7 linked regions of the Homo sapiens genome follow. The protein of the gene in region 1 purifies or fractionates together with the protein of each later gene. This does not show direct contact. Each region holds a gene or a part of one and is shown in the gene's direction. Other genes may lie near its edges. The genes, in order: PRKCZ, NAP1L1, HADHA, CD44, NIPSNAP1, PRDX4 and TUBB6.

Evidence for each region.
Region 2: the proteins of PRKCZ (region 1) and NAP1L1 purify together in Homo sapiens (affinity purification with mass spectrometry; 2 studies listed by BioGRID and IntAct, with this or other methods). This does not show direct contact.
Region 3: the proteins of PRKCZ (region 1) and HADHA purify together in Homo sapiens (affinity purification with mass spectrometry; 2 studies listed by BioGRID and IntAct, with this or other methods). This does not show direct contact.
Region 4: the proteins of PRKCZ (region 1) and CD44 purify together in Homo sapiens (affinity purification with western blotting; 2 studies listed by BioGRID and IntAct, with this or other methods). This does not show direct contact.
Region 5: the proteins of PRKCZ (region 1) and NIPSNAP1 purify together in Homo sapiens (affinity purification with mass spectrometry; 2 studies listed by BioGRID and IntAct, with this or other methods). This does not show direct contact.
Region 6: the proteins of PRKCZ (region 1) and PRDX4 purify together in Homo sapiens (affinity purification with mass spectrometry; 2 studies listed by BioGRID and IntAct, with this or other methods). This does not show direct contact.
Region 7: the proteins of PRKCZ (region 1) and TUBB6 purify together in Homo sapiens (affinity purification with mass spectrometry; 2 studies listed by BioGRID and IntAct, with this or other methods). This does not show direct contact.

What each region holds. Positions count from the first base shown.
Region 1 is NC_000001.11:2,056,911-2,060,410, forward strand, and holds part of PRKCZ (protein kinase C zeta type), read left to right. Parts: intron 1-2,630; coding exon 2,631-2,681; intron 2,682-3,500. UniProt on the Homo sapiens protein: Calcium- and diacylglycerol-independent serine/threonine-protein kinase that functions in phosphatidylinositol 3-kinase (PI3K) pathway and mitogen-activated protein (MAP) kinase cascade, and is involved in NF-kappa-B activation, mitogenic signaling, cell proliferation, cell polarity, inflammatory response and maintenance of long-term potentiation (LTP).
Region 2 is NC_000012.12:76,057,186-76,060,685, reverse strand, and holds part of NAP1L1 (nucleosome assembly protein 1-like 1), read left to right. Parts: intron 1-406; coding exon 407-548; intron 549-807; coding exon 808-888; intron 889-3,500. UniProt on the Homo sapiens protein: Histone chaperone that plays a role in the nuclear import of H2A-H2B and nucleosome assembly.
Region 3 is NC_000002.12:26,234,633-26,238,132, reverse strand, and holds part of HADHA (trifunctional enzyme subunit alpha, mitochondrial precursor), read left to right. Parts: intron 1-1,144; coding exon 1,145-1,278; intron 1,279-3,500. UniProt on the Homo sapiens protein: Mitochondrial trifunctional enzyme catalyzes the last three of the four reactions of the mitochondrial beta-oxidation pathway.
Region 4 is NC_000011.10:35,198,171-35,201,670, forward strand, and holds part of CD44 (CD44 antigen isoform 1 precursor), read left to right. Parts: coding exon 1-76; intron 77-2,475; coding exon of another isoform or gene 2,476-2,747; exon of another isoform or gene 2,748-2,911; coding exon 2,912-3,025; exon of another isoform or gene 3,026-3,497; coding exon of another isoform or gene 3,498-3,500. UniProt on the Homo sapiens protein: Cell-surface receptor that plays a role in cell-cell interactions, cell adhesion and migration, helping them to sense and respond to changes in the tissue microenvironment.
Region 5 is NC_000022.11:29,557,114-29,560,613, reverse strand, and holds part of NIPSNAP1 (protein NipSnap homolog 1), read left to right. Parts: intron 1-1,660; coding exon 1,661-1,744; intron 1,745-3,500.
Region 6 is NC_000023.11:23,670,493-23,673,992, forward strand, and holds part of PRDX4 (peroxiredoxin-4 precursor), read left to right. Parts: intron 1-1,036; coding exon 1,037-1,154; intron 1,155-3,500. UniProt on the Homo sapiens protein: Thiol-specific peroxidase that catalyzes the reduction of hydrogen peroxide and organic hydroperoxides to water and alcohols, respectively.
Region 7 is NC_000018.10:12,311,241-12,314,740, forward strand, and holds part of TUBB6 (tubulin beta-6 chain), read left to right. Parts: intron 1-3,500. UniProt on the Homo sapiens protein: Tubulin is the major constituent of microtubules, a cylinder consisting of laterally associated linear protofilaments composed of alpha- and beta-tubulin heterodimers.

The sequences.
Region 1 (3,500 bases):
GTAGAGACGGGGTTTCACCGTGTTAGCCAGGATGGTCTCAGTCTCCTGACCTCGTGATCTGCCTGCCTCAGCCTCCCAAAGTGCTGGGATTACAGATGTGAGCCACCGCGCCCGGCCTTTTCTTTGACATTTTATTAACCCAAATGAAAACTGCTCTTAACAAAGAACCCGTAAACCACTCAGAGGCTCCAGTGGCCAGCGTAGGGCCCGCGGCGCATGTGGACAGAGGGGACAGCCCCACCAGCCACCTCACCTGCCCGGTGCTCCCTAGGCCCGGCTCCAGGCTCACAGCTGTCCTCAGCTTTAAGTTCAAAGCCCCATGATGAGCTGACGCATGGGAGATGTGATTGTGATCATTTCCACTTTGTCTTTAGGTGGGCGTGGGCTCCTCCCCGGTACTGCTGGGGGTCTGCAGGGCGTCTGGGGCCTGGGAATGTGGTTCCAGCGCTGTGGCCAGCCGGTCACGTCTTTGTCTCTGTGTCCACTTCTGGCGTAGCTTGGGCTCCTTGCCAGGCGTCTGGCCATGGACGATTGAGTCCAAGATGGGACCAAAGCTCGAAACCACCCATGGATTTCTGACAGATCCATCATTCTCCTGGACACCGGGCTACCTGGTTACAACACTTAATTTTCTTCGCCCTTTATATCAATGAGGCTCTAAATTTAAAGACTAGGCCGGGTGCGGTGGCTCACAACTGTAATCCCAGCACTTTGGGAGGTCAAGGTGGGAGGATCGCTTCAGCCTAGGAGTTCAAGACCAACCTGGGCAACATAGTGAGACCCCCCCCTCTCCAAAACTTGTTTTATTTTTTTGAGACAGAGTCTGGCTCTGTCCCCAGGCTGGAGTGCAGTGGCACTATCTCTGTTCACTGCAACCTCCACCTCCCAGATATAAGCGATTGTCCTGCCTCAGCCTCCCGAGTAGCTGGGACTACAGGCATGTGCCACCACACTTGGCTAATTTTTTTTTTTTTTTAGTTGGAGTCTCGCTCTGTCGCCCAGGCTGGAGTGCAGTGACGCGATCTCAGCTCAATGCAACCTCCGCCTCCCGGGTTCAAGCAATTCTTCTGCCTCACCCTCCCAAGTAGCTGGGACTACAGGCATGTGTCATCACGCCTGGCTAATGTTTTGTATTTTTAGTAGAGACGGAGTTTCACCATGTTAGCCAAGATGGTCTCGATCTCCTGACCTCGTGATCCACCCGCCTCAGCCTCCCAAAGTGCTGGGATTACAGGCGTGAGCCACGGTGCCCGGCCTAATTTTTGTATTTTTAGTAGAGATGGGGTCTCGCCATGTTGGCCAGGCTGTTCTCAAACTCCTGACCTTAGGTGATCTGCCTGCCTCAGCTTCCTGAAGTGTTGGGATTACAGGCGTGAGCCACGGTGCCCGGCCCCAATTTTTTTTTTTTTTTTTTTTTTTGATATTCAGACGTGGTGGTGCACCTGTAGTCCCAGTTACTCGGGAGGCTGAGGTGGGAGGATTCCTTGAGCACAGGAGGTAGAGGCTACAGTGAACTGTGATTATTCCACTGCACTCTAGCCTGAGTGATGGGGCGAAACCCTGTGTCAGATAAATAAATTCATAGATGTGCCTAATCTAGTCCTTTTTATTGTGGTTGTGATAGTAAGCACATTTTGCCTCTCTATGTGGAAAGATACAGTGGCTTAAAAATTCACATTGTTTTCTAGATAAAAGAAAAATAGGGCTGGGTTCAGTGGCACACACTTGTAATCCCAGCACTTTGGGAGGCCGAGGCAGGTGGATCACTTGAGGTCAGGAGTTCAAGACCAGCCTGACCAACATGGTGAAACCCCATCTCTACTATAAATACAAAAATTAGCCGGGCGTGGTGGTGTACACTTGTAATCCCAGCTACTTGGGAGGCTGAGGCAGGAGAACTGCTGGAACCCGAGAGGTGGAGGTTGCAGTGAGCTGAGATTGTGCCACTGAGCTCCAGCCTGGGCACAGAGTGAGACTCCATCTGAAAAAAACCAACAAAAAACAAAAAATGTTTGTTTTTTTAAAGTTTCAATACTTTTATGTGTATACACACACACATAAAAAAGTAGAGATGGGGTTTCGTCATGTTGGCCAGGCTGGTCTTGAACTCCTGGCCTGAAGCCATCCTCTCATCTCGGCCTCCCAAAGTGCTGGGATTGCAGGCGTGAGCCATCATGTCCAGCCAAGTTTTAATACTTTCTAAGCACCTATTTTAATAATTTATTGTGGAAGCCCAGGATATATGTTAAAATAATTTTGAACTCTGTCTTGAGTATGAAGAAGTGGAATCTAAAGTGCTTTTAAAAGTCAGTGTTCAAAGTAATTGCATTTCTTTCCCATTTTTATATAGTTTAAAAATACAAATCAGTAGCTTCCTCTGATGGCTTTGCTGTCCAGGTCCCTCTGATTGCCTTTTACTCTAAGTTTTTCCGTGGGTTTTAAAGTCGGAGCCTGGCCTACGTAGACGCACGGGGTTTTGCGTCTCCCAGGAGCGGGCTCTCATTGGCAGTGCCACGTGCGCCTTGCGTGAAGTCCACGTGCTCAGCCTGACTGAGGCGGGACTTCCTCCGTGAGACTGTTGAGTGGCAGCCGCAGGGTCTTGACGCTGTCTCTTTCTCTCTCTTGTCCAGTTTTCCCGAGCACCCCTGAGCAGCCTGGCCTGCCATGTCCGGGAGAAGACAGTGAGTACTGGGGTTTCCTACGCCGGTCTCGCATGTTACGGGGTTGAACTGTTGATCCGTTGTGCCACGGAGGTGGCAGTGGTGCCGTTTTCGGAGGTTCACCCTCGTGGAGCGTCAGGGCAGGAGCAGCCGTGGTGACCGCAGGTGGGGTTTTCACTGCAGCTGCTGCCTGTGCGTGTTCTGGCTGACAGCACCACATGGCGGGGGACTCGCTTGGCTGGTTGGTAGCATGAGAAGTCCAGGGGTGCCCTGCCGTCTCCCTAGGAGGGAGGGGCCAGGTGGGAGGCTGGACACTGCTCCTTTGTGGCTGCCTCAGCTCACGACCACCCCTAGGCCAGTCGTCTGCTCCTCCTGGTCCCTGCTGGCCCCTGAGCTGGTGTGGGGGCTCCGTTCATCCCACACTGGCTCCATTGTTGGGAGAGGAAGGAGAGTGAGTCCCGGGGGCTGTGGCTTCAGAGGGAAGCTTCTGACCTCACTTCCTACTGCATCCCGGAGACTGTTGGGCCCTGAGCAGGTGGCTACGCTGCTCTCGGGCCGCGCATCCCATGGCTGTGCTTGGTGGGGTTCCACCCCCACTCTCCAGACCCCACACGGCCTCCAGCATCCGTGCCATGCCTTGTTCGTTGTGTGGGCAGGAGCTCCTGGACCGAGGCCGCTGCCTGTCCAGCGCAGGGCACGTGGCTCAGTGCCCTTCAGGCAGGGCTTCCCCCACCCCTGCTGCCAGGGCACACACCTCGCTGGCCTCAGGCTGGATGCTGGGTGTTGGCAGTGCCCTGTGTTGGGCGGGAACTGGGGGTGGGAGCAGATTCAGGCCAAGAG
Region 2 (3,500 bases), on another chromosome or scaffold:
TCCTTTTTCCTGATATGTCTATGCTCCCCTCCTTTTTCCTAATAACTTGTATGGGTGAGATATATGTAAAAGAAAAATCCAAGTAATCATTGTTCTCAGAATTAAGATGGTCTGTCCATGACTTCAGCAATGACAAGTCCAACACTTAACTTGGGTAAAGATTTAGGGTTGACAATATGATTTACATTTTGTTTATCAATTTACCCAGTTACATTTCTACTTTTGAAATATAGCCAGTGGATCAATGTATTTATATCTATTTGATTTTTATTTACTTTGAATCTACCTTTTGCTTCAGATAAAAAACCTGTCATTCACTAACTCCAATGCTTCAGTTTCAGTATGACAAAAGAAGTGTGACTTCCATTTTACTCTGATGCTATATAACTGATTTCTAACCTTTCAGCCTGCCTAGGGTAGTTAAAAGACGAGTGAATGCTCTCAAAAACCTGCAAGTTAAATGTGCACAGATAGAAGCCAAATTCTATGAGGAAGTTCACGATCTTGAAAGGAAGTATGCTGTTCTCTATCAGCCTCTATTTGATAAGGTAATGCTTTCTCCTACTTTGTTTAATTTAACATTCTAGAAGACGAATTCTAGAAACATAAGCAGACTTGGAAGAGGTTAATCTTTAGAACTCTCATTGAAATTGTTATTAGAGGCAGCACTTGGAGGAACTATCAATAATAGCAGTTAAAGTTGTGGTATGCATTTGTTAAATTTGTAAGACTTCTTAGTGAGAAACCACTGGTTTTAGCTTGGATGCCAGTGTTTTTATACAGCCTTTTTTTTTTAAATCATTTTAGCGATTTGAAATTATTAATGCAATTTATGAACCTACGGAAGAAGAATGTGAATGGAAACCAGATGAAGAAGATGAGATTTCGGTTAGTACCAACTTTATTTTGGTATGTTTTTAAGATGATAAAATCTTAGGACTTGTCAGAAATGTTAGCATTTAATGATGGAGTACAATATTATATAACCAGTTGTATTTTTTCATTTTTTAATTTTACGTCTTTATTACACGTTTTTCTATTACTTTATTTTTAAAAAACAGTCATTCAAGATTGTAATTTGCATGGCAATAAGCAGCGGTTTCATGGGTTCTAAGTTTCTTAAGTGTCCACAGCAGTTTAAAACACCACAAGTCTTATTTCCAATTTGCAGCACCTGACTTAAAGTTCGAATTCATCTGATGGAGCATTAAAACTGTCATTTTCTCTTGTGAAAAGACATAATTGCTATTTCCAGGACTGTATATTGAACATGGTTGTACATTATTTTTAATTGGTTAGTAGAATTTTACTCATGTAATTTATATCCAGAATAAGAACCTCTAGCATCTCTGAATGGCCTTCCTCTCAGAACGATGATGATTAAATGTCTAAAATGTATCTGGGGTGCCCCCACTTGACATTACCAAACATGTTTCCAAATAATCTTAGAAAATATGATTCTTTAAACATATGCATACCACATCTTTAAACATAAACATACCACACAGTGCACCATCACTTCCTTAACCATTTTCCAATTGTTCACTTATAACATTTGCAATTTTTTATTATAAATCATATTGTGATGAATACTTTCATCCATAAGTTTTATTGCAAGGCTTATTGTTTCTTCTAATGTCTTCTAATTTCAAAGAAGTGGCTTACTGGTTCAAACAGTGCACATACGTGGTTTTAAGGCTTTTAGTATACTTTACCAAATAATCTCCAGAATAGCTCCAACAACTCCTACCAACAGTATGTTATTGTGCCCATAGGGTGGACTTGATAACAGCAAAGCAAATTCAACCACAGATATATTAGATTCTCACCCATCTCAAAACTATCACATCAGAGAAGCAAGGAGACATATTATTGGTGAGGAAGCCAAATTCAAATTCTTTTAAAAAATCACTCAGCTTTAGATCAGTAAAATAATCAACAAAAATGGTCACCGCAAAGTCTACCGGGTTTTTCAAAAAATAAAAAGAGAGAAAGAGAAAGGCCAGGCGCAGTGGCTCATGCCTGTAATCCCAGCACTTTGGGAGGCCTAGGTGGGCCAATCACTAGGTCAGGAGTTCGAGACCAGCCTGGCCAACATGGTGAAATCCCATCTCTACTAAAAATACAAAATATTAGCTGGGTGTGGAGGCGGGTGCCTCTAATCCCACCTACTCGGGAGGCTCAGGCAGGAGAATCACTTGAACTCGGGAAGTCGAGGTTGCAGTGAGCCGAGATCGCACCACTGCGCTCCAGCCCAGGCGACAGTGTGAGACTCCGTCTCAAAAAAAAAAAAAAAAAGTACCAAATAACCAAAATTTTTTATTTGACTAAATTCTGTTCATGTATGAGCATGACAGTCTCTCCTGTTTATTTGACTTTGGCAATAAAAAAATAAGCAGCCTTGTACAGAACAGGGAAAATGCCAAGAACGAAGGCAGTCTACAGTTTTACTGTAGAATACATATATATATATATATATATATATATATATGTAGGCCTCTCTCCCTTTGGCCATATCTACTGTCAGTTCAGGCCATTAACTACAGACAAATTTTCAAATTCACTTCTTCTCCAAGATCTTCGATGCTGTCATCATCTACTTCTGTCTGTTTTTCCTGAATGACCTCAATTATGTCATCTGTAAAGTCTCCTTGAATGATAATTTCATCCTCCTCTGTTACTGAGGCACCACAGGAGAATTTTTGAGCAAAAAATCTTTGTGTGATTTAAGATCAATTTCAAAAGTTACAAGGCCACAACCCTTGTCACATATTTCTTTGCTCTGGGAATTTTGGCTATAGTAACCTTTTGTGGTACCGTCTTTGTTTTTTTGTTTTATTTGACCCCTTCCACCTCTCTTCTGTTTTTTCTTCTCCTCTTCTTCCCCTGCTGTTCCTTGACCTTGACAGATTCCAGCTTCTTGTTTGGGTGAATTTTCCACAGTAAGTTTTGCATATTCATTTGGAAAATTCTTCTCTAATCATTGTCTACATTTAGCAACATCAGGCATATATTCACAGTACTCTATTGGTAATGAACAGACTCCACAATAAAGGACTCAAAGTAGGTAATCAGCATCTAACTTGGCTCTGTTCCTTGGGTCTCCTTTGCAGTCAGCCCTATTGGAATCGGAAACGTCAGCAGCCATTTCACAAACCCAGGCAGTTGCACAGGCCCCGCCAGCTCTGCTCCCGCCACTGTTGCCAGCTGAGCCGACAAATGCAACTCGTTTCCCCGGCCAGGGCCTCCCTAGAGCATCAGTTGTATTTTTATACCTAGGAAATATTTTTCCTTTTTGTAAGAATGATAATGCAGATGAACTGTTATTCAACCTGGCACCACCATCTGTACTCAAAAAGTCATTATTTCCTTACATTTTATAGTTTTTTTGTTTAAGAGACAGGGACTTGCTGTGTTGCCCAGGCTGGAGTACACTGGCATGATCTTGGCTCACTGCAGCTCATTCCTGGGCCCAAGCTATTCTCCCACCTCAGCCTCCC
Region 3 (3,500 bases), on another chromosome or scaffold:
TGAAGGCTGAGGTGGAAAGATCACTTAAGCCTAGGAATTCAAGGTTACAGTGAGCTATGATTGCACCACTGCACTCCAGCCTGGGCCACAGAGCAAGACCTTGTCTCTCTAAAAAACAACAACAACAAACTTATAGCCAGAGGCTTAGATGTAATAAGACCTAGATGGAAGCAGTTGACAACTATCACAAATTAAGGTAAATAAGAGCCATTCCCCTTTACTAGAGTAAATTTTAGCACTCACTAACCAATGATTCAAGCTTAAGATATTTTTTCAGAATTTTCTTAGGTTGGACATTTTTCCTGAACACAAAAGTAATATATGTCAATGGTAGAAAATTTTTCAACTATAAAAAATTATAAAGAAGAAAATAATAAACATTCATAATTCAAACCTAAAGATAACCACATCTTTTTCTTGGTATCTTCCATGGGATAATCACATTTAATTCAGTTTCAATGAATAATATTTACAAAACTAAGATCATACTATATGGTTTTTTTTGAAGATAGGGTCTCATTCTGTTGCCTAGGCTGGAGTGCAGTGGCACAGTCACAGGTTAGTGCAGCTTCAGCCTCCCCAGGCTCAGGTGATCCTCCCACCTAAGCCTCCTGAGTAGCTGGGACTATAGGCGTGTGCTGTCAGGCCCGGCTAATTTTTGTATTTTCTGTAGAGGCAAGGTTCCATTATGTTGCCCAGGCTGGTCTCGAACTCCTGAACTCAAGTGATCCGCCCACCTTGGCCTCCCAAAGTGCAGGGATTACAGGGATGAGCCACCATGCCTGGCCTATATGTCTTATTTGTATTTCATTTTTTTCTTAACATTATGCAGATTTTTTCCATGCCAATAAATGTTTGTAGACCTATTTGTTTATAGCCTACATATGATTCAAACTCTGAGGATGACCCTGAGTTTCTCCTTTGAGAAGACCTATTTTTAAAGGAAGGGGTGCTTGTAGTGGGCCAAAGCTGCCTGAATAGAAAGCTACTGACTTGCTGGGAGAATGATATTTCTTACTCTCTTCTAACAGTATATTTCTGCCGGATAAGTATATTTCTTATAATCAAAATAGCATTTGATGGTGGTACGTACATCCAGTGCTTCAAATTTAAACCCTTACCTGTATATATTTCCCTTTGGCAGGTAAATACACTGAGTAAAGAGCTACATTCAGAGTTCTCAGAAGTTATGAATGAAATCTGGGCTAGTGATCAAATCAGAAGTGCCGTCCTTATCTCATCAAAGCCAGGCTGCTTTATTGCAGGTGCTGATATCAAGTAAGTTTTAGGAAACTTGAAGTCACCTTTTATCTTGGTTAATAGTGTGTTTCTTAGGCCTAATAATTTCTCCTTTTAAAAGAAAGTAGAAGTGCTGGGCACAGTGACACAGGCCTGTAAAATTGAAAATGTACGTATCAGGCTGGGTGTGGTGGTTCTTGCCTGTAATCCCAGCACTTTGGGAGGCCGAGGCAGGTGGATCACATGAGGCCAAGAGCTCAAGACCAGCCTGGCCAACATGGTGAAACCCTGTCTCCACTAAAAATACAAAAATTAGGCATGGTGGCACACGCTTGTAATCTCAGCTACTCAGGAGGCTGTGGCACGAAAATCCCTTGAACCTGGGAGGCAGAGGTTGCAGTGAGCCGAGATCACACCACTGCACTCCAGCCTGGGTGACAGAGTGAGACTGTCTTAAAAAAAAAAAGTATATACACACACACACACACACACACACACACACACACACACACAGAGTATATATATATATATATACACACACACACACACACACATCATGTGATCTAGAGAAATCTCACCCCTTGTTTATAAGAACCAGTGTACAAGGATGTTTGGTCCTGTGTAGTGTGAAATAATGAAGAATTTAAAACCAAATGTCAGTCAGTAGGAAAATGGGTAAGTAAAATGTGGACTATTCACACAATAGAATACTACAAAACAGGTAAAAGGAATTAACTAGATCCACAATATGATGTTAGAACTCAAAAACATAAGGTTAAGTTAAAAGAAAAGCAAATTGCAGAATGTTTCATACAGTATATAGTTTCTATAAATGTTTTAAAACCAAACATGGAATAATTCTTGATACTATTTATGGACACAATCGTAGTTGGTCTGGAAGGAGACACTACAAACATGAAGATGGCTGCTTTGGGGAAATGAAGTGGGTGGTAGGACTTGATTGTTAAAGGCAGCTTTACAGATGCAGCTAGTATTTTCTTTTCCTCTGCTAAATGGTGGAATGCATGCCTACATTAACTTATTTACAATTGTTTACACATACATAAGGAGGGGAAATGATATTTTAGTGTCAGTTTAATAGGTTAAAATGTTAAGTTGTCAATTCCATTAAAATATGGGTATTTGTTATGTTCTTTGTATTTTAGACAATGATAGCCAGCATTGTAGGTTTAGTAATTTGTACTGAAAGTGTAATTATTTATGTGTAGTAATCAGTCTCTTGTTAGGCACAAATAATTCAGCTAGAAGAAAAACCACTTGATAAGATAATTTTGGGTCTTCTAAAAAATTAACATTAAACAGAACATTTATAAAGTCTAACAAGACACTGATGTACCTGGCAGTAGCTACCTATATCCAGAGGAAAATACATGTAGCTTCTATGAGGCCAGCTGAGCAACTCTCAGTGTATAAAATTACAGAATATACTAGTTATCCTTGGTCAAAAGTACAAAATCCATATCCTAAGTGTGTTCACAAAATAGCAAATGAAACAAACTGAAATTAAAGGACATTGAGTGGAACATCATTGCACCTGATCATTTTTATTTACTTATTTATTTTTGAGACGGAGTCTCCCTCTGCTGTCCAGGCTGGAGTACAGTGGTGCGATCTCGGCCCACTGCAACCTCCACCTCCCAGGTTCCAGTGATTCTCTCGCCTCAGCCTCCCGAGTAGCCAGGACTACAGGAATGCAGCACCACGCCCAGCTAATTTTTGTATTTTTAGTAGAGACGCGGTTTCACCATGTTGACCAGCCTGGTCTCGAACTCCTGACCTCAGGTGATCCACCTGCCTTGGCCTCTCAAAGTGCTGGGATTACAGGCATGAGCCACCATGCCTGGCCTACCTGGTCATTTTTATTCATTAGTGGGATCTGTTAAAATGTTTTAGATTTCTCTAAACAACCTGGAAGCTTTTCTTTTGCGTCATTTTTATTGCTGTTAACTACCTGATAGTGAAATGTTTAATCTGATAGTGAAGTAATTTACCAAAGATGATTTTCCCTTGTACCAAGCTTTGTAATTTAATGATTTATTACAGAAGTAAAAATAAATTATGCAACACATTTATGTTTTCTGGATCCAGAATTTTTTTTTTTTTTTTTGAGACAGAGTCTCACTCTGTCGCCCAGGCTGGAGTGCAGTGGCGCGATCTCGGCTCACTGCAAGCTCCACCTCCCGGTTTCACACTGTTCTCCTGCCTCAGCCTCCCAAGTAGCTGGGACTACAGGCGCCCGC
Region 4 (3,500 bases), on another chromosome or scaffold:
GAAGATGAAAGAGACAGACACCTCAGTTTTTCTGGATCAGGCATTGATGATGATGAAGATTTTATCTCCAGCACCAGTAAGAATAATCAATTACAGTACAGCCATTTATGCAAGGCTTATTGATTAATCTGAGTGATACCAAATTGTATCTCTCTTGAGAAGTAGTTAATGTGAAAAATGGGTGAACCTATGATCATACCTTAGTTATATCTTGATGAGATTATGGAAGAAGAAATAGAATGTTTTGAGAAGTGGGGAAAATATCTCACAAAATTTCTCTTGTCTCATGTTCTTCCTGTTTTATTTATCTATGGGATCTACTGCTACAGATTGTCTTTGAATGATCAGGCTTTATCAGAGAATGACATTAAAACAGTACAAAAAATGTACATTGTGTACTTACTGTGCTAGGTGCTGGAAACACGAAGATGAAAAGAGCCAGAGCCTTTGCTTTTCAGAAGCTCATGGTCTGTTGGAGCAATAGACTTGAAGAATGTGATGAGGAGGGTATTAATTAAAAGTTGTAGGCCAGGCGTGGTGGCTCACACCTGTAATCCCAGCACCCTGGGAGGCCGAGGCGGGCAGATGACGAGGTCAGGAGATCGAGACCATCCTGGCTAACACAGTGAAACCCCATCTCTACTAAAAAATACAAAAAATTAACCAGGCGTAGTGGCGGGTGCCTGTAGTCCTAGCTATTCGGGAGGCTGAGGCAGGAGAATGGTGTGAACCCAGGAGGAGATCGCGCCACTGCACTCCAGCACTCTAACCTGGGTGACAGAGCCAGACTCCATCTCAAAAAAAAAAAAAAAAAGTTGTGGAAGTTCCTAAATTGAAGGCCCTAAAGGCTTAAATGATGGGAGCTAGAACTCAAGAATTATCTTAGTTAATCAAAGCCCAGCTGAGGTCAAAGGAACAAATCCAGAGTTTTAACAAATGAGCTGGACACCAATATAGCAGAAAGACCTTGAAGGGAAGGGCAAATGTCAGGTTAGCTTTAGCAAGACATTGCCACTTATTAAAAGCAAATAATGAAACCACTATTGGTACATAATAGTATCCAAATTTTTGACAATTATAAAACTTTTTGAGAACAAAGAGATGGAAATTGAGCTTTAAAGATATCCTTAAAAAGTTAAAAACATGCAAAGGTTGGTCTAATATTCTGCCAGATTACTGAGTTTTCCACACATACCTGTAATGACTTAAGATTTTGCTGAACAGAGCTGAGAATCCTGAACCTGACTCCATCACAGTTCTGCTTTTCCTTAGAAAAAAGGCTTTTGGGGTGCTGTGTGAGCTCTCCCAATTCACTGAAGTTCTATCCATTCCATTAAAATCTGAGAATTTCATCCTCAAATGGACAGAGAAGAAAGGGTCCAGAAAAAAAAATAGCTTAGGCCTTGAAGGCATCTGAGTATATAACATTGATATGACAAATACTCAAAAGGAACTAGAATTTTCTATCTAAACTTTTAAGTGATTTTTTTTTTAGACCCGACACCCCTCCAGAGCTTAATCTATGGAATAAGAAAATTCCTTTTGGTAACTTCAGAACAAAAACCAAATAATCAAAAACACTGGAGTTTTACATTATACTGTCTCCTGTGTTCAGCATGTGGCCCAGCTTTGCAGATGGGCCCATCAGTAAATACGTGGTCTTGATACTGAAGAAATTAAATTCCCTTGGGTGGTAACCCAAACAGATCTACCTGTAAATGAATTGTATGGTCAGGCTTCAGGGAAAAATTTCCCATGGTGTTGTTTTTTTTTTTTTTTTTTTTTTTTTTTAATTTTTTAAATCTCTATGGCATATTTTTCCAATTTCTGCTTTTCTTTTTTTTTCTTTTCTGCTTAGCACCTATGGACATAATTCAACATGATGCCCTCTTTCTTCTGGAGGGGTGTGATAACTGCTTGATAATAAGCACTTTTTCAGGCCTATTGAGAATGTGGTTAATGATTCTAAACTTGATTTTTCATAACTTGTAAAATAGAGCTGACAGTATTATAGTTCTGAAAACAGTTTTGCGTTATTTGGGTATCAAAATAAAGTTTGAAACAATTAGGATGGATTTGCAAATAACCTTTCACAAAACATGTTGACTCAGATTTTGTCATGATCCTTCTGTTAGGTGCATCTCTTATTCCAGCCCTAACAGATTGGGTGACAATATCAGGGTGCTGGTGGATGTACGCCTCTTTCTTTCCAGTGTGCTGCTATGATGGTGGCTGGTTACCTGTGGTGTCTTATTTTCTTTCACTGGCTATGAATGGCTTGCTCATGACATATTTTGTATTTGATGAGAATACCATAGTGTTTGATAAATATTCAGAAATGTATCGCTAAAACATATGGCTATTCTAGGTATTCTTTTTCAGAATCATCTATAGGAAAGCTCTAGCTGCTCAGGCATTCCTTTCCCCACTGAAATTACTAACAACATAAAGTGATTATCATGGTATAACTTTCAGTTATCTGCCTCTTCACCCGGAGGATCTACAAACAGCACACAGTGACTAAGTCCCTGGGCTTTCAAGTGCAGAGGGATACTACAGACTGCATGGATGGGCAAAATGGCGCCTTTGGTTATCCTCGGTGGAGGGCTGGTGTTTTCAAAGCTGTCCTTCCTACTGCTGCAGCTTCTTTGACTGTTTTATCTGGAAGATCTCATGTTCTGAACCCCAAGGTATTCTATGACAGAATGCAAAGGACACTGAGATGCTTACCAATATGGCTGAATTAAGCTGAAGTCACCCTCCGCTTTCCCTCCATTTCCATGCAGCCATCTATACAACCTGGTATAGATGATTCATTGCATAGCCTACAGAAGCAAGACTATGTGCGGGACAAGTGGCGAAGGCTCAAGAAATAACATTTTTCTAATTGCTTCAATCATCGTTATCACAGTTTCAACCACACCACGGGCTTTTGACCACACAAAACAGAACCAGGACTGGACCCAGTGGAACCCAAGCCATTCAAATCCGGAAGTGCTACTTCAGACAACCACAAGGATGACTGGTAATGGGTTCTGCATATTTAATGAAAGATTTTTTTCCCCTCAAAGCCCATGATGCTGCAAAGGTCAATCATCGAGGCACAGTGGGAAATTTAGTTAATATCTGATCAAGAAATTCTTAGTGGACTTTTATGAGGATACTTAATTCCATTTAGGAGTCATTTATCAATTATACCATGTGGGCACAGGATTTTTTATGTTGCTTCATGATAAAAATGAATATGTTTGAATGGTTTGTGGTTCTGCCTTTGACAAACTGATCATAGTGGAATAATAAGGGAACATGAAGAAATTCCAAGCCCATTGATTTTCTCTTGAGACCAATTAGGTAAAGTCACTCAAAATTTTTGAGAGTGGATGCTCAGAGGTAACACTTTGGCATAGAATTGTTAAATAGCATGCACTTTAATGGAAGAATAGAATCATTAAAGATTGGTTGATAACAAGTCACAGTGTATTTAACCATCATCACAGCAG
Region 5 (3,500 bases), on another chromosome or scaffold:
CTTAGATGTAAAGTCACAAAAAGATCAATTTCAGATTACAAATAATATTTATAGAAAATAGGCAAGGAGTCTGGGAGCGGTGGCTCAAGTGTATAATCACGACACTTTGGGAGGCCGAGGTGGGCAAATCACAAGGTCAAGAGATCGAGACCATCCTGGCCAATATGGTGAAACCCCATCTCTACTAAAAATACAAAAATTAGCTGGGCGTGGTGGCGCATGCCTGTAGTCCCAGATACTCGGGAGGATGAGGCAGGAGAATCAGTTGAACCCGGGAGGTGGAGGTTGCAGTGAGCTGAGATCACGCCATTGCACTCCAGCCTGGCAACAGAGCGAGACTCCGTCTCAAAAAAAAAGAAGAAAAAAAAAAAAGGCAGGGAGAGATGATGGTGAAAAACATAGGGGATCTACATTGGTCTAGGTAGACAAATAATGCCTCTCTGAGGAAGTAAAATGTAAGCTGAGAGCTAAAGGATGAGAAGGAGCCAGCTGTGAATTGCTAGGCAAAAGCATTCCAAGTAGACAGAGCAGCACATGCAAAGGCCCTGTGGTGGGGAAAGGCCTTCGGGGTTTTGAGGTGTGGCAAGGAGGCCAGTGTGGAGTGAGTAGGGAAGAATGTGGGGAGATGGAACAGGAGAGGGGGAATGAGTTGGGATTTATTGTAAATGCAATGAGAGACTATTTGTTTCAAATAGCAGTGACACGACCTGATTTTTGTTCTAGTATGATTTCTCTGGCTGCTGTCTGCTTTGTTAAGAGTGCTTGGTAGGCGAGCAAGAGAGAAAGCAGGGCTTCAGGAAGCCATTACTCTAGTTCAGGCAGGAGGGGATGGGGCAGTGGGATGCTGAGAAGTCCACAGAAGATTTGTTAGTCTAGAGGTGGAACCAACAGGACTTGTGGATGAATTGTCTGTGTGGGGCAAGAGAAGGAGAAGGGCATTCCAGAAGAGCTCCCAGGCTCGTGCTTGAGCTGCTGTGTGTCATCTCCTGAGTCTGGGAGGTCTAGGGAAGGAGCAAGTCAGTGGGGTCAGGAGCGTAATTTTGGCCCTTGGAATTGTTACTTTTTTTTTTTTTCTTTGAGACACAGTCTTGCTCTGTCACCTAGGCTGGAGTGCAGTAGTGTGATCTCAGCTCACTGCAACCTCCGCTTCCCAAGTTCAAGTGATTCTCGTGCCTCACGCTCCTGAGTAGCTGGGATTACAGGCATGCAGTACCATGCCCAACTAATTTTTCTATTTTTAGTACAGAGTTTCGCTATGTTGGCCAGACTGGCCTCGAACTCCTGGCCTCAAGCAGTCCACCAGCCTCGGCCTCCCAAAGTGCTGGGATTATAGGCATGAGCCACCGCACCTAGCCGGAAGTGTTAACACTAAAAATGCTGACACACCAAAGTAGAGATGTCAAGTAGGCAGTAGATGGATATAGGAGTCTGGAGCCCTTGGGAGTGTTTGCGACTAGAAATATAAATGTAGGCAATATTAACATATGTACTGATTGGATGGATGATTAAAGCAGACAGTGTTTGCTAATAGTCTGAGGGAGGCATCTAGGGAGGAGGAGACAGCAGTGCAGGGTTTAGGGGACAGTGGGAAGAGGGCCCTGTGCTGGGTAAGGGATCCAGTCCTCTGTGCCTGAGGAATGAGCCTGTGCCTTTCTCACAGCCTATAAAGACCTGCAGTCTCGGGAGGAGACTCGAAACGCTGCCTGGAGGAAGAGAGGCTGGGATGAAAATGTCTACTATACAGGTGAGTGAAGCCTTTGGAGGTCTTCTGCTGAGAACCCTGTCTGAGGATGGAATCCTCTCTGCAAGGAGATCTAGTCTTTCTTGATTACCTCCAGTGATGGGGAACTCACTTTTAAGACAATGAGTTAATGGGTTTCTATCCAAGTGGCACACTCCATAGGATACCAGCAGGCCTAGGTGAGTACTCTAGGGGATGATAACATAGCCAGGGCCACGCCTCTGCCTAGGAGATGTGGATTAGCAAACGCCCATTGTGACCTTGGGCACGGTTCTTTACCTCGCTGAGGCTGTTCCCTCGTCTGTAAGATAGTGATGGTGATAGTGCTTCTGTCAGAGGGCTATAACGGAAGATTCTACAAACTATTTTATTATTTTATATTTTATTTTATTTTATTTATTTTTGAGACACAGTCTCACTCTGTCACCCAGGGTGGAGTGCAGTGGCATGATCTTGGCTCACTGTAGCCTCCGCCTCCCAGGTTCAAGCCATTCTCCTGCCTCAGCCTCCCGAGTAGCTGGGATTACAGGCGTGTGTCACCATGTCCAGCTAATTTTGTATTTTTAGTAGAGACGGGGTTTTATCATGTTGGCCAAGCTGGTCTCGAACTCCTGACCTCAGGTGATCCGCCTGCCTCGGCCTCCCAAAGTGCTGTGATTACAGGCATGAGCCACCACATCTGGCCCACAAACTCATTTATGAAAAGTGCTTTCTCCAGTGTCTGTCACAAAGGAAGCATGCAGGAAATGTTTTTGAATAAGGTTTTTGTTTTTGTAGAGATGCAGTCTTACTATGTCACCCAGGCAGGTCTCAAACTCCTGGGCTCAAGCAGTCCTCCCACCTCAGCCTTCCAAAGTGCTGGGATCATAGGCATGAGCTACTGTGCCCAGCCTTGAACAAGTTTTTTGCTCAAGGTGTTTGCCACTTTGCTAGGAACCTGAAACCACCTAGAGTCAGTGGGTGTTAATTAAGCCCTCACTGTGTGCCGGGAACTGTGGTAGGTAGGTGGTTGAGGGGCACATAAATGAACAAGAGCCTGTCCTTGCCATTGAGAAGTTTACAGTGATCACTTACCAGGTGGTATGAGGGAGAATGTGTCTGCTGAAGGAGTTAGCAGGAGCCTTGCTATTCAGTGTGGTCCCAGCTGGGTATGGTGGCTCACAACTGAAATCCTAGTACTTTGGGAGGCCAAGGCAAGAGGATCACTTGAGGTCAGTAGTTTAAGACCAGCCTGGGCAACATAGGGAGACCCCATCTCTACAAAACATTTTTTAAAAATTAGCAGGACGTGGTGTTTCCCATCTGTAGTCCCAGCTACTTGGAAGGCTGAGGTGGGAGGATCACTTGATCCCAGGAGTTTGAGGCTGCAGGGAGCCATGATTGTGCCATTGCACTCCAGCCTGGGCAACAGTGAGACCCTATCTCAAAAATAAAAAATAAAAATAATAAAAAACAAGACAAGCACAGTGGCTTACACCTGTAATCCCAGCACTATGAAGTTGAGGTATGTGGATCAATTGAGGCCAGGAGTTGGAGACCAGTCTCGGCAACATGGTGAAACCTCGTCTCTACTAAAAATAAAAAAAATTAGCCAGGCATGGTAACTCAAGCCTGTAATCCCAGCTACTCGGGAGGCTGAGGCACAAGAATCACTTGAACCCAGGAGGCGGAGGTTGCATTGAGCCGAGAACCTGCCACTGCACTCCAGCCTGGAAGACAGAGTGAGACCCTGTCTCAAAAAAAACAAAAAACAAAAAAA
Region 6 (3,500 bases), on another chromosome or scaffold:
CCATAAATGGTGGCTGTTACAGAGAAGTATAAGCCTTACTTTCTAGGACCCTTAGCCAAACTTAGAAGCAAGCATTGACTTCAGTGTTTGTAAGGGGTCTGAAAGTATAAGTGCTATCTGAATGTGTTAACAGAGCATGAAGGTGCATTAGTATCTAAGTGTGTTGGCTAAAATTACTGTACGCCCTTACAAGAGAGCAGCATGAACTGTTCAGTTTCCATTGGGTCACTTGAAACCTGTTCAAGGGAGTCTTCTTTCAAAGCCCTCTAGGAAAATGATCCCATGGTCTGGGATTTTACACTTCTGGCCTGACATATTTGTACATTCCCTCCTCATTTTGTGTAGCCTCATCTGCAGCAGGTCCTCCATGTGTATGTCAGAAGCTGGACAAACTAGTACATCTGGAAGACTGCCATTAGAGAAAGGAAAATCTAATTATTTGAAATGTAGGAAGTTGACAACTTGAAGCGGGACTATAGTGAAGTATCCAGGAGGGTTTAGTGCAGGGTAGAATTTAAGGGGTCTGTGAGCATGAATAGGGGAAAAAAGTATTTATTTTCACTAATCCCCATCTGAAATTTAGTGTTTCCTTCTATTATGAATGTCAGCAACAAACTACACTATCTTCAGCAGCACTTGCTTGTACCTTTCACCAATAGAATCACTTATTTTCTTGCTACATATGGTTATCGCAGGTATCCTGAAACACCATTTTCACTCATCATTATCTTACGTAGTTGTCAGATTACAACTAGATCTTGCAGTTTTGAAGTGTTATAGAGCACATGTATTATGATATCACCAATTTTTTTTAATATTTTTATAATTGCATTTAAATACAATTGGTTTCTTTTGTAATTCTATGTATTTTCCTTTTTGCATTCAATAACACTCTTTTAAGAAGTCTGTAAGCTTCACCAGACTGCCAAAGAGATCTAAAGGTAGCCCTGATTTTTAGTGATTTTCTAAAGATGTCCTTCTACCATTCCACCAACTTTCTCAGTGTTACAGAACATCATGTATTTTATTTTCTTAGTTTCCAAGCCAGCGCCCTACTGGGAAGGAACAGCTGTGATCGATGGAGAATTTAAGGAGCTGAAGTTAACTGATTATCGTGGGAAATACTTGGTTTTCTTCTTCTACCCACTTGATTTGTAAGTAATACATGTAAATAGCTAGTAAAATCTCAGTCTTTATCAATTATTTTTCAGGAGTATCAAACAAATTATTTTGTTCAGCTCTTGGTTTTTAAAAAGGCAAGCTGAAGTAAAGAAATGTATTTAAAAAGGTAACATCTACCATATATTTCAGAGTCATAACACACCGACCTCAATACTTATGTCTACATGATTATGTTATAATGGAATAATTAGAGGAAAGCTACAATATATTCATTAAGCTATACCTACTAAGGCAAGAAAATGGACTGATAATATATTAGAAAGCATTTAATAGCAAGACCTATGCCATAATTCTTTTTACTGTATCTCTCTTGATTAGAAAATTAATTCTGTAATCCCAGCACTTTGGGAGGCCAAGGCAGGTGGATTACAAGGTCAAGAGATCGAGACCATCCTGGCCAACATGGTAAAACCCCATCTCTACTAAAAATGCAAAAATTAGCTGGGCGTGGTGGTACGCGCCTGTAGTCCCAGCTACTCGGGAGGCTGAGGCAGGAGAATTGCTTGAACCCTGGAGGCGGAGGTTGCAGTAAGCTGAGATAGTGCCACTGCACTCCAGCCTGGCGACAGCGAGACTCCATCTCAAAAAGAAAAGAAAAAGAAAATTAAGCCATTTTCTCTAGTGATACCATGTAACTGTGGTTTTTCCATTTTTATTCTTTGCTGCATCTGTTGCTTTTCTGGGATTTGAACATTTTGCTGAAAATATTATATACTGCTTAAGGAATAAGGAATAACACCTGTGTATATGTTATGGTTATTGTGGGGTTTCTCGTCTTTTTTTAACTCTGTGACAGTGAGCGTTTTTGTATATGGTCAGAAAGTTGACTAAAAGTAAATACCCTTACAGCTTTATTCACGTTGAGGATTTAATTTTATTTTACAAAACACTATTTTGAGTGTTTTTCAAAATTCATGAAAGTGAGAAGAGACCAAAAAGAGTTATGTCAATTTTTATCTTTTATTCTCTTGGAACTTACTTTTTGGTTACAACAAATAACTAGAAGTTTCCTCCTCTATCTTTGCCACTGTGCCTTTTTCCATTAGGACTAATCTGGAACTACATAGATCAAATTTAAACTTGCAGGGAGGGTATACTTAAGCTCATTGCTATAGGTTGTTTCTAGGCCAGGGATTAACAAATTTTTTCTGCTGGATTTGGCCTATTGACCTATTTGCCAACCCCTGCTCTAAGCCACAAAGGAAGAATTCTCATGAAAATTATTACATTGAGACTAAAGTTATGAGTCTGCATAATATATAATCTTTTAAATTATAAGAACTTGCTTCTTTCTAATCAACTCATATTGTGACTTGATTTTTTTAAGTATAGCTTAATTTCTAATAGAAACCAGAAGTAGAAATTTCAGTAGACATAAAAAATGACAGGCCTTCTAAATTCATGTTGTTATAAAACCAGAAGGTTAACATGTATGTTAAATATATACGACTAACACCCTGAATTTGGAAGTTAGTCTAATGTAGCAGAAAAATATGTTCTGTGTTTCTCCATTGTTATTCATAACTCCATAATGGGTAAGAGATAGTTAATTGGAGCATGTTGTTAGCAATGGTCTTCTGGGACAAGGAGCTAAGATAGCCTCTTCCTGTTTTCATGTAATGCTGGACTGTGCCTGGTTAGAGAAGGAAGAATTCTGGGGCATTTGCCACAGTCTACAAGGAGGAAAGTTACAAACGTAACCCTTCAGTTTCCTGCCAAAACTTTTTCTGTCTTCACTAAGAAGTTGGTCAAATGTATCTCTAGGTAGCATTCCTTGAAATAAGAAGAAAGGCAGAGGCTGGGTGCAGTGGCTCACGCCTGTAATCCCAGCACTTTGGGAGGCCAACATGGGCGGATCACCTGAGGTCAGGAGTTCTAGACCAGCCTGGCCAACAAGGTGAAACCCCGTCTCTACTGAAAATACAAACAAAATTACCCGGGCGTGGTGGTGGGCGTTTGTAGTCCCAGTTACTCAGCAGGCTGAGGCAGGAGAATTGCTTGAACCCGGGAGGCGGAGGTTGCAGTGAGCTGAGATCGCGCCACTGCACTCCAGCCTGGGTGACAGAGTGAGACCCTGCCACAAAAAAAAAAAAAAAGGAAGGCTGAGGCTGACCATTCCTACCCTTTAGAAAATATTAAAAATACATTTTATAGCCCAGGTTTCCAGGGACATCATCCGAGATTAGAACTGTCTACTTGGACATGACAGTGCTGTACCTGAATACCTGAAACATGTTAAAATCCTGTATTGGTATCTGGTAGGAACTTGTGCCCTAACTAAGTCTATGTTTTTCAAACTTTCTTGACCATGTCTCACA
Region 7 (3,500 bases), on another chromosome or scaffold:
TTTGGTGGGAAGGAACCTCTATATCTCTAAATGAAATTCTTCTACTGGTAGTTCTTGATTAAAAAACAAAAATCAAGCCAGGCGCGGTGGCTCATGCCTGTAATCCCACCACTTTGGGAGGCCAAGACGAGCGGATCACGAGGTCAGGAGATCAAGACCATCCTGGCTGACACGGTGAAACCCTGTCTCTACTAAAAATACAAAAAATTAGCCGGGCATGGTGGCACGTGCCTGTAGTCCCAGCTACTCGGGAGGCTGAGGCAGGAGAATCGCTGGAACCCGGGAGGTAGAGGTTGCAGTGAGCTGAGATTGCACTACTGCACTCCAACCTGGGTGACAGAGCGAGACTCCATCTCAAAAATAGCAAAAAACAAAAAAACAAAAACCAAGAAACAATTTTAGACATTAGCTTCTTTTTCCCCATCATTATAAAGTTATTTTGCCATTTGTTTTTGGTTCCTATATTGGTTTTATCAGAATTAGGTAAATCCTTTTTTTCTTGCTTCTTCCACCTAAAAAATGATAGTAAAACATATCTTTCTGCAGACTTCTGAAGAAAATTATATAAAATTACATGAAGTGGTACCATTAGTGTTATCAAGTAGAACCTACAGGATAGGTGGCAGATTTGGAAGTTTCCCACCTATTTTAATGTTAGAGACCACATATCTATTGACATTATTGCTAAAAAAAAAAATTCCTCACTCAATCAAACATATTTCCAATACCTGTGAAAAGCAGTGTCTTCCAAGAAAATGTGAAGAATTTGAAGACTGATTCTGGCTTAAAAGCACTATGGTGTAGGAATCAAATACATCATGAAAAATCTACATTCTAACCCCTTTCTCAAAAGGCACCAGGAAGAGATAGTTTAATAGAGGGTAACAGACAATCCCATTATCCAAACCATTCCAGAGAGAAAATGATGGAAAACTTCCCAACATTTCCTATGAGGCTAGGTAGCTTCTACTAGAACATACAAGTGAAAGCTGTATATCAAACTTACTTAAAAATATAGATGCAAAAATCCAAAATAAAATACTTAGAATATCAAATGTAGTTGTGTTTTTTAAAAAATATATTAATAGCACATTGTGACCAAGTAAGACTGAGAGGCAGACAGTGTAATGGTTAGGAGTCTGGCTGTGCTGCCAGACTCCCTGGGTTTAAATTTTGGCCCTTCCACTCACTATGTGGCCTTAGACTTATTTAACTTACTTGTGACTTAATTTCCTCATCACAAGTGGGACTGTCTACCTCTTAGTGAGATGTAAGGATTAAATAAACACTTAGAATGTCTAGTACAAAATAAGTGTTTGAGAAATACTAGCAACATCCCAGGAATGCAAGGATGGTTCAACATTAAGAAGTCTACTAATAGATTAAAGACAACATCTTAATAGATGACCCAAAAAAGTGGGTTTTTTTTCTGACTCCCAGCAGGAAACAATTTTTTAAAAAAGATTAAAGTTTTGGAAGCCAGGAGCAGTAGCTAACGCCTGTAATCCCAGCACTTTGGGAGGCCAAGGCGGGCGGATCACCTGAGGTCGGGAGTTTGAGACCAGCCTGACCAACATGGAGAAACCCCATCTCTACTAAAAATACAAAATTAGCCCAGTGTGGTGGCACATGCCTGTAATCCCAGCTACTCGGGAGGCTGAGGCAGGAGAATCACTTGAACCCAGCAGGCGGAGGTTGGGGTGAACCAAGATCGCACCATTGCACTCCAGCCTGGGCAACAAGAGTGAAATTCTATCTCAAAAAAAAAAAAAAAAAGATAAAGTTTTGGATGTGTTCCTGATTTGTAGAGGACAAAAAAACTTCTATGTAAGCTGGAAGTAGAAAGAAACTTCCTTTATTTACAGATTATCTACCAGAAACCCATAGCAACATTACACTCCCTGGTGAAACAGAAGCATTTCCAGCAGAATTAGGTATAAGAAACAGATGTCCATTGTCTCTACAATTATTCCATGTTCTGAAGGCTTTAGCCAGTGCACAAAAACCAGAGAAAGAAAAAATGCAAATCATGTAAAGGAAAAGACAAAAGTGTTATTTGTTGATGAAATGATTCTCTTGGAGTTTCCAGATAGGCTATCAGCTGAAAAATGACTAGCACTTACAAGACTTCAGTAAGGGAGCCAGACACAAGATAAAATATTCAGAAATTAATAGTTTTGCGATCAGGTTACCAATCTTTCTGATTTGCCTGGAACTGGGAGGTGTTCCCCAGGACACTAGACTTTGAGTGCTAAAACTGCCAGGGTCCCAGGCAAACTGGAACAGATGAATCACATTAAAAGCAATAATCACTGGGGAACACATCCTATTCACAACTGTAATAAAAGCTATAAATACCTGGGGACAAAATTTACTACTAACTAGAGGCAAGAGGGAATTAAAACAAAATATTCTCCCACCAGATTGGCCAGTATTTCAGAAGCTGCTAAGACCTAGTGTTGGTGAAGGTGTTTGGGAAAATAACAGCTGTTCAGAGAACTACTTAGTAGATTGAGCAAATCAATAATTTCCATCCAAGAGTTCCAGTTCAAGGAATCTGTTCTGCAGAAATGCTCACACATAGAGATTGCAGATTGGCCTCCAGAAGAGCTGAATCCATTTGCATGCCCACGGGGGGTGTCTGAGAGCTCCTCTTGCCCAGTGTCATCCTTGTCAATTCAGAGGGACTGCTCTCTGAGTACTGTAATAAAGACCTGACTTGGATAACATTAATATTCTGTATTGTGAGAAAGGAAAAAGGACGATCCTACTTTATACAGATCAGCATTGAGTAACTCACTTACTAAGTAGGTATAGACTCAGCAGCCACAGCTTCTTTCTGGACCACATTCCCAGGTCACAGAGTTAACATAGCCAGGAAGAAAGAGCACCGCACCGGGAGAGGGAAACTGAGCAGCTGACCCTAGCTCTGTGCCCGCTGGCAGCATCAGTTCCCTTCTCTGGGGGTCTTCATTTTACTATCTGAAATGAAGGACCCCCCCCAAGCATCTTGGGGTCACAGACCCCTGTAAGAATCTGCGAGAAGAAATGGCCCTATCTCCCCCACTTGTTGTAGAATTCTGCCCAGTCTTCTCCTTGAGGTTCAGTGGATTTTTGGTGAGAATCTGAGCGAGCGGACAGCTAAGATTTCTTGAGTCTGAATTATAGTTGGCTGAGTCTACCGTAGTCTCAGTAAGCTTTACCAGACACAATTCATGTATTTCCAACTAATACACCTTTTAGAAATCACACCTCTTCTTTGATAGGCAGTGTGTGCACATGGTGCGTAGCTGGAAAGGCCATACAGTGAAAACCCACCTCCCTCCCTGCCTGCCTCCCTCGCAGGAGTCCTTCCTGAGATTGGGAAACAGTTACAAGCATATCTGTGAATTTTTATAGATAAAAAAGATCTTAAAGTTTTACATATGTAAAATATATACCTTCTTCAAAGAAGGATATGAAACAACAGTAAAAGACAGGCATAAATGTAGCAGTTTACA